Homo sapiens: one gene and its partners. The protein of the gene in region 1 interacts with the protein of each later gene in a biochemical or structural test. Each region holds a gene or a part of one and is shown on either strand. Other genes may lie near its edges. The genes, in order: NME1, PRUNE1 and FBXO24.

Region 1 (3,208 bases):
CATGATCATGGTTCACTGCAGCCTTGGACTCCTGGGCACAATCCTCCTGCCTATGCCTTCCCAATAGCTAGGACTAGAGGTGCACAGCACCAGAGCTAATTTTTTTTTTTTTTTTTTGTAAAGACAGCGTCTTGCTATGTTGCCCACCCTGGACTTGAACTTCTGGCCTCTAGCGATTCTCCTCCTCAGCCTCCTGAATAGCTGGGATTAAAGGCATGAGCCATCGTACCCAGCCTAATTTTTCTTTTTTTTTTTTTAGTGAGACAGGGTCTTGCTATGTTACCCAGGCTGGTCTCCCATCTCAGCCTCCCAAGTAGCTGGTATCACAAGCACAAGCCAGCACACCCAGCCCTCATGTTTTCTTTCATTTCTGATGAATCCTCTGCACCTAGTCCAGTCTTGGCCACGTAGCACATGCTCCATAGATGCCTGTTGAATAGCTCAGTGCCAAGAGTGGAAGGGATGCGGGGGTTAAGAAGGGCAGGCAAAGAATGCCTGTGTGTATGTGAGACCTCAAAATAAATCATTTTTATAGTATTTACACTCTCTATTAGGTCAGGTTATTCAGTGTACATGAAAAGAAGGAAAAAAAAGCAATGCAACAATATGAAGTAACCAACTCAATGAATCCTATGCTGGGAGGAAGCATTTTAATCAGATGGTCGGGGATGGTAACACTGTACAGGGAGAACTCACAGCTCCAAGAGCTTCCCTCCAAATTATGATGAAGTTCCTGTAAATAACTAGATTTCCTACAGCCTGGTCCTCTGCCCATGGGAAGGAGGGGAAATGGATGTGAAAAGCAATGTGGTCTGCCCTCCTGTCATTCATAGATCCAGTTCTGAGCACAGCTCGTGTAATCTACCAGTTCCTCAGGGTGAAACCACAAGCCGATCTCCTTCTCTGCACTCTCCACAGAATCACTGCCATGTATAATGTTCCTGGGTGGAGAAAGAGATAGTCACATGACCAAGACCAGAAGGATTAAAATGCGCCCATTGCCAGAAATCTACAGCCACAGCAGCATAAAAGCTGAAGCTCCATGGACATTAGACCATGTTAAAAGAAAAAGCCTACAATGGCCATTCACTTAAGGCTGAAAAATGCCCTCCCCACATCCAGCCCTCCCGGCCACGCTGGTGCAAACAGTGAGAGCCTTCAGGAAAGACTGGCCAGCAAAGTGTGTTGTACCAGGTTCTACACTTCGTGTAACAGAGGTACGACTAAGTGATGTTAACAACCAAAGCCAAACGCCAACTTAAGAGGGAGGAAAACAATAAACTCCGATAAAATCAACCTGCATATGGTATCATGTCTACCTCCAGCCTCGGAAACCCAAATCCTTGTGGCAACTAAATCAGATTTTGGAAAAGGGGGAAAAATACCAAAATCTCACCTGCCAACTTGTATGCAGAAGTCTCCACGGATGGTCCCAGGCTTGGAGTCTGCAGGGTTGGTCTCCCCGAGCATGACTCGGCCCGTCTTCACCACATTCAGCCCCTCCCAGACCTCCAAGGACAGAAGAAGATATGGTCAAAGAAGAAAACCAATCACAGCAGAAAATCTGGCAACTATTAATTCAAAAAAGGAAAAATAAAAAGGCCCCTTAAGATTATATTCATTCACTGAACAAATGTTTATAGAGTATATCCACTTATTCCAGCACTGAGGATCCTGATCTCCCTGCCCTCATGCTTGCCTTTCTACAATGTATTCTCCATACAGCAACCAGAGCAGCCTCCTTAAAATGCCAAGTGTGGGCAGGGCGCAGTGGCTCACGCCTGTAATCCCAGCCCTTTGGGAGGCTGAGGGGAGTGGATCACGAGGTCAGGAGATCGAGACCATCCTGGCTAACATGGTGAAACCCTGTCTCTACTAAAAATACGAAAAGATTAGCTGGGCGTGGTGGCGGGCGCCTGTAGTCCCAGCTACTCAGGAGGCTAAGGCAGGAGAATGGCGTGAACCCGGGAGGTGGAGCTTGCGGTGAGACGAGATGGCACCACTGCACTCCAGCCTGGGCAACAGAGCAAGACTCCGTCTCAAAAAAAAAAAAAAAAAGAAATGCCAAGTGTGAAGTGTCCCATAGCTTCCCAGCACTCAGGAAGTATATGGTCAACACACCCCTAAGAGAGAAGGCCCCTGCCCATGCCTCTGAACTCTTCACCTCCCAACTTCCCTCCCACCCATCAGGCTTCGGGCATTTCAACTCTCCTCCCGTACTTCAAAAAGCCAAGCTCATTCCCACCCTGGGACCTTTGCACATGCTGTTTGCTTGGCTGGAAATGTTTTTCACTGTGATTCTGTACATGGCTGGCTGCTTCTTGTCATTCAGATCGCTGCTTCTTGTCATTCAGATCACAGCTTAAAAATTGCGTTCTTTGATCACCCAATCTAAAGTGATCATTTGCTACTCCTATTCATTTCTGGGCATATTTCATTTCTGAAGCCTATCACTAACCATTAGCTGGTATATGAAAACAGGTATCTATTTGGTCTCATTCATGGCTGTATCCCCAGTGTCTAGAAGAGAGCCTAGCACAGATGACAAGCAATGCATACTTGGAGTATCCCACACAGGCACACTCACCATGGCAACTACCGGCCCTGAGTGCATGTATTTCACCAGGCCGGCAAAGAATGGACGGTCCTTCAGGTCAACGTAGTGTTCCTTGAGAAGATCTTCGGAAGCCTATTCAACAGGACAGAGAATGAGAATAACCCCCAAACCATCTAAGGACATATAATCCATTTAATTTCCCCTCATCCACCCTGCTATGTAAAACATGAGCGGTTGGGCTCACTGATTCTGTTATAACCCAATTCATTCTCCACACTGGAAGGGAGCAGTGACAGGACTAAATGTACTTCTCCAATTTTATATCAGTTGTCTCCCTATTGGCACTGACTGATAATAAAACCACAGAACATTAAAATTAAATCCAGCTATCTCATTTAAAAAAAAATCAAACTCCTGGGCTCAAGTGATCCTCCTGCCTCAGACTCCCGAGTAGGTAGGACTGTAGACACACACTACCAGACTTGGCTAATTTTATTTATTTATTTATTTATTTTGAGACAGAGTCTCCCTCTGTCACCCAGGCTGGAGTGCAGTGGCGTGATCCTGACTTACTGCAACCTCCACCTCCTGGGTTCAAGTGATTCTCCTGCCTCAGCCTCCCAAGTAGCTGGGATTACAGGTGGCGGCCAT
Region 2 (3,653 bases), on another chromosome or scaffold:
TAGCCAGGCTGGTCTCGAACTCCTGCCCTCAGGTCATCCGCTCTCGCCTCGGCCTCCCAAAGTGCTAGGATTACAGGTGTGAGCCACCAAGCCTGGCCCACAGTATTTTATTTTAGTATTTTGTATTTTTTATTTAATAGACTAGGGATGGGGTCTTGCTATGTTGCCCAGGCTGGTCTCCAAATCCTGGTCTCAAGCAATCCTCCTGCTTCAGCCTCCGAAAGTGCTGGGATTCATACACAGTGTTTTATTTATTTTATTTTACTTTAATTTTTTTTTTTTTGAAATGGATTCTTGCTCTGTTACCCAGGCTGGAGTACAGTGGCACGATCTTAGCTCACTGCAACCTTCGCCTCCCAGATTCAAGCAATTCTCTTGCTTCAGCCTCCTGAGTAGCTGGGATTACAGGCACCTGCCATCATGCCCAGCTAATTTTTGTATTTTTAGTAGAGACGGGGTTTCGCCATATTGGCCAGGCTGGTCTCAAACTCCTGAGCTCAGGTGATCTGCCCAGCTCAGCCTCCCAAAGTTCTGGGATTACAGGCATGAGCTACCATACCCAGCCATACACAGTATTTTAAAAACAGAGGAAACAGTTTAGATTGTATATTTCATTTTATTATTAAAGTAACTAAAGCGAAGTAAGATGGTTGTGAGTAAAATCATGCAGATGATGGCAGTTAAACCAGAACCGAGGAACCCCAGCTTCTAATCTAGTGTCGTTTCCAAGTGTATAAATGTGCTCAAGAACTTGAACTAGGATGGAACTAGAATTTATCTAGAGGCCAGAAGAGGGATGGAGGAAGAAAGAATGAATTGAACAAAATAAGACTGGTATCACTATTACCCTCACTTACATGCAGGGAAACTGAGGCTTCAATGATCAGGTAACTTGCCTAAGGTCATAATTTGCATGAAGCAAAACTGACACTGAGCCCAGAGCTGTCACCAAAGCCAGTGTTCTAAATCAATATATTATACTACCCCTAACATAGGAGAAAGAGAGGAGATGGTAGAGTAGACTGTAAGAAAAGGACTCCTGGCTGGGCATAGTGGCCCACACCTGCAATTCCAGAACTCTGGGAAGCTGAGGCTGGTGGATCACTTGAGTCCAGGAGTTCGAGACCAGCCTGGGCAACATAGCGAGACTCTGTCCCTACAAAAAATACAAAAAAAATTAGCTAGCCATGGTGGTGTGCCTGTAGCCGCAGCTACTTGGGAGGCTGGGAGGATTGCTTGAACCCGGGAGGCAGAGGTTGCAGTGAGCTGAGATAGTGCCATTGTACCACTCCAGCCTGGTCAACAGAGTGAGACATCTCAAAAAAAAAAAAAAACACACACACACACACACAAAAACAAAACAGAGAGAGAAGGACTCCTGTTTCCAAGCATAGGGGCAACCTAGACAATGGTAGAGTCATTAGAAATCCACACAGCTTTAAAAGAGCAGCACAGAGGGGAGAAGATTCAGGAACGTGGAAGAGGTACTTCTAATGGCCAAAGCACCCTTTTCTTACTGACAGGATTAGTAAGAGCCACTATTTACAAAGTGCTTACTCTGCTCCAGGAGTGTGCTTTACACATGATATTACGTTTAATGATCATAGCAGAATTAGCAGTAGGTACTATTATGCCATTTCCAGATGCAGAAGTCAACTGACTTGCCTTAGCTCAAAGAGTGAGTAAGAGGCAAACCTAGAACAGAAAAGCACATCTACCTGACTTTAAAAACTGCAGTTCTTGGCCAGGTGCAGTGGCTCAGGCTTGTAATTCCAGCACTTCGGAAGGCCAAGGCAGGTGGATCACTTGAGGTCAGGAGTTCGAGACCTGCCTGGCTAACATGGTGAAACCCCATCTCTACTAAAAATACAAAAATTAGTCAGGCATGGTGGCAGGCGCCTGTAGTCCCAGCTACAGGCTGAGGTGGGAGAACTGACTGAACCTGGGAGGTGGCGGTTGCAGTGAGCCAAGATCACACCACTGTACTCAAGCCTGGGCGACAGAGTGAGACTCCATCTTAAAAAACAAACAAACAGACAAAACTGCAGTTCTTTTCATAATGACGAACTACCTTACACTGAATGAAATCAGATTTGCTTCCTGGGGAGAAGGCAAAGGCAAAGGGGGGCGGGAAAGGACAGACATACCTTCTATGAGAGCAAAGGATTATCTGGCTGTATTCTGTCTTTAGCAGTCCTCACAGAGCCTAGGCAACCCTCAGAATCCCTGAACTGCCTTAAGCCCACCTTTTTTTTTTTTTTTTTTGGAGACGGAGTCTTGCTCTGTTGGCAGGATGGAGTACAGTGGCGCAATCTCGGCTCACTGCAACCTCTGCTTGCCGAGGTTCAAGAGATTCTCCTGCCTCAGCCTCCTGAGTAGCTGGGACTATAGGCACGCACCACCACGCCCAGCTAATTTCCGTATTTTTAAAAGAGATGGGGTTTCACCATGTTGGCCAGGATGGTCTTGATCTCTTGCTCTCGTGATCTGCCCGCCTCAGCTTCCCAAAGTGCTGGGATTACAGGTGTGAGCCACCGCACCCAGCCTTAAGCCCACTTTTAAATTCTTCCCTAGGCTAATCAGTAACCAGCAGAGGAACAGAAGGGGGAGGAAGTAGGAAAGATAGCCAAATCTGGATCTAGATCACTTCTTTACAGAGTTTGCACTATACAGAATAATTAATCCCTGCATAGTAAGTAGCAGAAAAGGTCTCTCGTATTTCTAATTTTCAAGGCAACAGCATAATTCCAGGGGTGAGGAATTAATGATTAAACCAAGAATAGAGTTTTTGTTTTTTTTTTTCCCCAACAGAGATGAGGTCTTGCTATCTTTGCCCAGGCTGGACTCAAACTTTCCAGCTCGGCTGGGCGCGGTGGCTCACGCCTGTAATCCCAGCACTTTGGGAGGCCAAGGCGGGCGGATCACGAGGTCAGGAGATCGAGACTATCCTGGCTAACACGGTGAAACCCCGTCTCTACTAAAAATACAAAAAATTAGCCGGGCGTGGTGGCGGGCGCCTGTAGTCCCAGCTACTCGGGAGGCTGAGGCAGGACAATGGCGTTAACCCAGGAGGCAGAGCTTGCAGTGAGCCGAGATTGTGCCACTGCACCCCAGCCTGGGCAACAGCACAAGACTGTCTCAAAAAAAAAAAAAAAAAAAAAACTTTCCAGCTTAAGCAATCCTTCTGCATCAGCCTCCCGAGTTGCTGGGACTACAGGCACGTGCCACTGTCCCTAGCTCAAGAAGGGAATTTTAACTCCGGATTTATAACATTTCCTTCTAACTAGATTTCGTTCTTTCAAAGTAGGAATTGAATCTCTAGTTCTCTTTGGAATTCCCCCTTTCTCAACAATGCTATGATTAAGGATGTTCATTAAAAAAAAAAAAAGGATATTCATATAGAGAGAGAATGGGAAAAAGCAGAAAGGGGAGGAAACAGGTCCAGAAACAGGTCAAGGGACCTCATGTAAGTACATTAATATAAGAACCTAAGAGAGGTCCTTATAGGACAGCTGTAGAGCACAGAGGTACATACAGGCAGACTCTGTAAGGCTCTTAGGTTGGAGAAGGGACACAGACTCACCGTTGTTTGGAGTGCCACATGGGGACAGAAAATAGCCAACTGCCGCACTGGCTCATTGTGAGTGTTGAAA
Region 3 (2,798 bases), on another chromosome or scaffold:
TCCGTCTCTACAAAAAAAAAAAAAATGCTAGAGGCTGAGGTGGGAGGCCCGGAGTTCGAGATCACCATGAGCAACATAGTGAGACACTATCTCTATAGAAAATTTAAAAATTTAAAATTTAAAAATTATAGGCACATGCCGGGTGTGGTGGCACATGCCTGTATTCCCAACTACTCAGGAGGCTGAGGCAGAAGAATGGCTTGAGCCCAGGAGGTCAAGGCTGCAGTGAGCTATGATTGCACCACTGCATTTCAGCCTGGGCAACAGAATGAGACCCCATCTCTAAAAAAAGAAAAGAGAAAATAAAAATGCTAGAGTGGAGGCTGGGCTCAGTGGTTCATGCCTGTAATCCCAGCACTTTGGGAGGCCAAGGCAGGCAGATCACCTGAGGTCAGGAGTTCGAGACCAGCCTGGTCAACATGGCAAAACCCCTTCTCTACTAAAAATACAAAAATTAGATGGGTGTGGTGGCAAGGACCTGTAGTCCTAGCTACTTGGGAGGCTGAGGTGGGAGAATCACTTGAACCCAGGAAGGCAGAGGTTGCAGTGAGCCGAGATCGCACTGCTGCACTCCAGCCTTCCGACTCTGTCTCAAACAAAAAAAAAAAAAAGAAAGAAAGAAAGAAAAGATAATACTAGAGCAGGAAGGGAGGGATAGTGGAAGGGAAAGTCCTTCCTCAGGGTGGTGTTGGGGTCTAACCTGGAATTGCACAAGAAGCAAGTCTCCCCGAGGCTGGCAGGCAGGATGAGAGGCTGGACTGGCATAGACGGGTGGGCTGAGAATGAGGGGTACACCACAGCAGGCCCTGGGCTCAGGCAAGGAGCTGATTTTCTGGGGGCATAGATGAGATACCAACAGAAGTGCAAGACCCTATGTGACCAGTTAGAGTATGGGGGCTGCAGGGGTCAGCAGGGCAGACCTGGGGCGTGGGACAGTGCTGGCTCCCATTTCCTCCTCCCCAGTTCATTCTGCCCCGAGCCTTCCAGTCAACCTTTTCCCACCCCAGCCCCCCCGTCCCTTGGTGCTCCCTGCTCAGGGACCCTGGCCGTGTGTCCCCAGGTTTGTTACCTGCAGCGGCCCATCACCCTGTGGTGCGGCCTCAACCACTCCCTGGTGCTGAGCCAGAGCTCAGAGTTCAGCAAGGAGCTGCTGGGCTGCGGCTGTGGGGCTGGGGGCCGCCTCCCAGGCTGGCCCAAGGGGAGTGCCTCCTTCGTCAAGCTCCAAGTCAAGGTCAGAGCGGGGTCAGGAGAGTGGGCACCCAGGGAGGATGAGAGCCATGAACCAGGAAGCCCACAGGCTGTAGCTGGGGCTCCTGCAGGGACCCAGGGGGTCCCATTTCCCTAGCACCACCCCACCTCCCTCCTCTGCCGCACACCACGCTCTCTGCTTTCTCCCTTAGCAGACTGTGCTGGCCTTGCCCAACCTCACACACCCCTGGGACTTAGCCGGCTCAGGGCTGGTGTGAGAGGGAAGAATGCAATAGGCAGATTAGCCCGGGCACCCTGGGAAACCCTGCAAGGAAAGCACCACTCAGCCATGCCCCCTTTCTCTCCTCCTCCAAGGTCCCTCTGTGTGCCTGTGCCCTCTGTGCCACCAGGGAGTGCCTATACATCCTGTCCAGCCACGACATTGAGCAGCACGCCCCCTATCGCCACCTGCCAGCCAGCAGGGTGGTGGGGACTCCTGAGCCCAGCCTGGGGGCCAGAGCACCCCAGGACCCCGGGGGGATGGCCCAGGCCTGCGAGGAGTACCTCAGCCAGATCCACAGTTGCCAAACGTTGCAGGACCGCACGGAGAAGATGAAGGAGATCGTAGGGTGGATGCCCCTGATGGCCGCACAGAAGGACTTCTTCTGGGAGGCCCTGGACATGCTGCAGAGGGCTGAAGGAGGCGGGGGTGGTGTAGGGCCCCCAGCCCCTGAGACCTAATCCCCCTCATGCTAGCCTAGTCCCTGGAGGAGGGAGTCCGGCCCCAGGCCAGGGACTAAGGAGCAATGACCATTGTGCACATGCGTGTGGGAAGGGGTTGCTAGGGGGTGGGGACGGCTAACCAGGGTAAGAATGTTCAGGGGGCTGCCCAGGAGGGGCCCCCAACCTGACTATCATGGACAAGAGATTTGATGGATAGAATAAAAGGCTGCAGCGAGGCCTGGTGTGGAAGCCTTGGGGGCTGGGAGGGACAGGGGCAGGGATGGGGTGGGTGGGTGCCCGGCTTGGTGGGTGCAGGAGGGCAGGAGCCCAGGCAGGGGCAGGCAGCACAAGCAGCTCCAGGTCTCAGGTGCAGCAGAGCTGATGCTGCCTGAACCCTTCACATTGTTGTCCACTCCCTGCTCCCAAGAGCACACCTGGTCGTTTGGACTGGGAAGTTCTGGCCCTACCTTCTGGAACAACTCTATGCACAGATGCTCTTGGCTACCCCACTGGGATCCCCTGCCCACTAGACTTGTCCCCATCCTGAGGCAGCCTGTTCCTCCTGACCCCCGAAAGCTTCCCACCCATCTCCCTTCGGCCTGAAGCCAGCCCCCCTCCTCTCTCCCTTCTGTTTACCTCCCAGGTTTGGGCTCTATTTTCTACTCCTTCCACCTCTTCCTGAGTAACAAGGACACTCCCTTCATCCACACCCCATGCCTCCTGCCTTGCTTCCTGTACCTTCAAGTAGTTGGAAGAGGTCATGGGTGAGAATTCCTTCTCCTTGGCCTAGTCTGGCCCAGGTCTGGAGAGAAGGCAATGGAGATGTGAAGTGGAGGCCAGGTGTGGTGGCTACGCCTATAATCCCAGCACTTTGGGAGTCCGAGGTG

Evidence for each region.
Region 2: the proteins of NME1 (region 1) and PRUNE1 form a complex in vitro, tested with the Homo sapiens proteins (one study listed by BioGRID).
Region 3: the proteins of NME1 (region 1) and FBXO24 form a complex in vitro, tested with the Homo sapiens proteins (one study listed by BioGRID).

What each region holds. Positions count from the first base shown.
Region 1 is NC_000017.11:51,159,461-51,162,668, reverse strand, and holds the end of NME1 (nucleoside diphosphate kinase A), read right to left. Parts: intron 2,690-3,208; coding exon 2,588-2,689; intron 1,510-2,587; coding exon 1,397-1,509; intron 942-1,396; coding exon 824-941; 3' UTR 501-823; downstream 1-500. Other genes in the region: NME1-NME2 protein, read right to left, coding at 1,397-1,509, 2,588-2,689. UniProt on the Homo sapiens protein: Major role in the synthesis of nucleoside triphosphates other than ATP. The ATP gamma phosphate is transferred to the NDP beta phosphate via a ping-pong mechanism, using a phosphorylated active-site intermediate.
Region 2 is NC_000001.11:151,028,875-151,032,527, reverse strand, and holds part of PRUNE1 (exopolyphosphatase PRUNE1), read right to left. Parts: coding exon 3,584-3,653; intron 1-3,583. UniProt on the Homo sapiens protein: Phosphodiesterase (PDE) that has higher activity toward cAMP than cGMP, as substrate. Plays a role in cell proliferation, migration and differentiation, and acts as a negative regulator of NME1. Plays a role in the regulation of neurogenesis.
Region 3 is NC_000007.14:100,598,971-100,601,768, forward strand, and holds the end of FBXO24 (F-box only protein 24), read left to right. Parts: intron 1-700; exon of another isoform or gene 701-832; intron 833-1,060; coding exon 1,061-1,231; intron 1,232-1,563; coding exon 1,564-1,929; 3' UTR 1,930-2,147; downstream 2,148-2,798. UniProt on the Homo sapiens protein: Substrate-recognition component of the SCF (SKP1-CUL1-F-box protein)-type E3 ubiquitin ligase complex.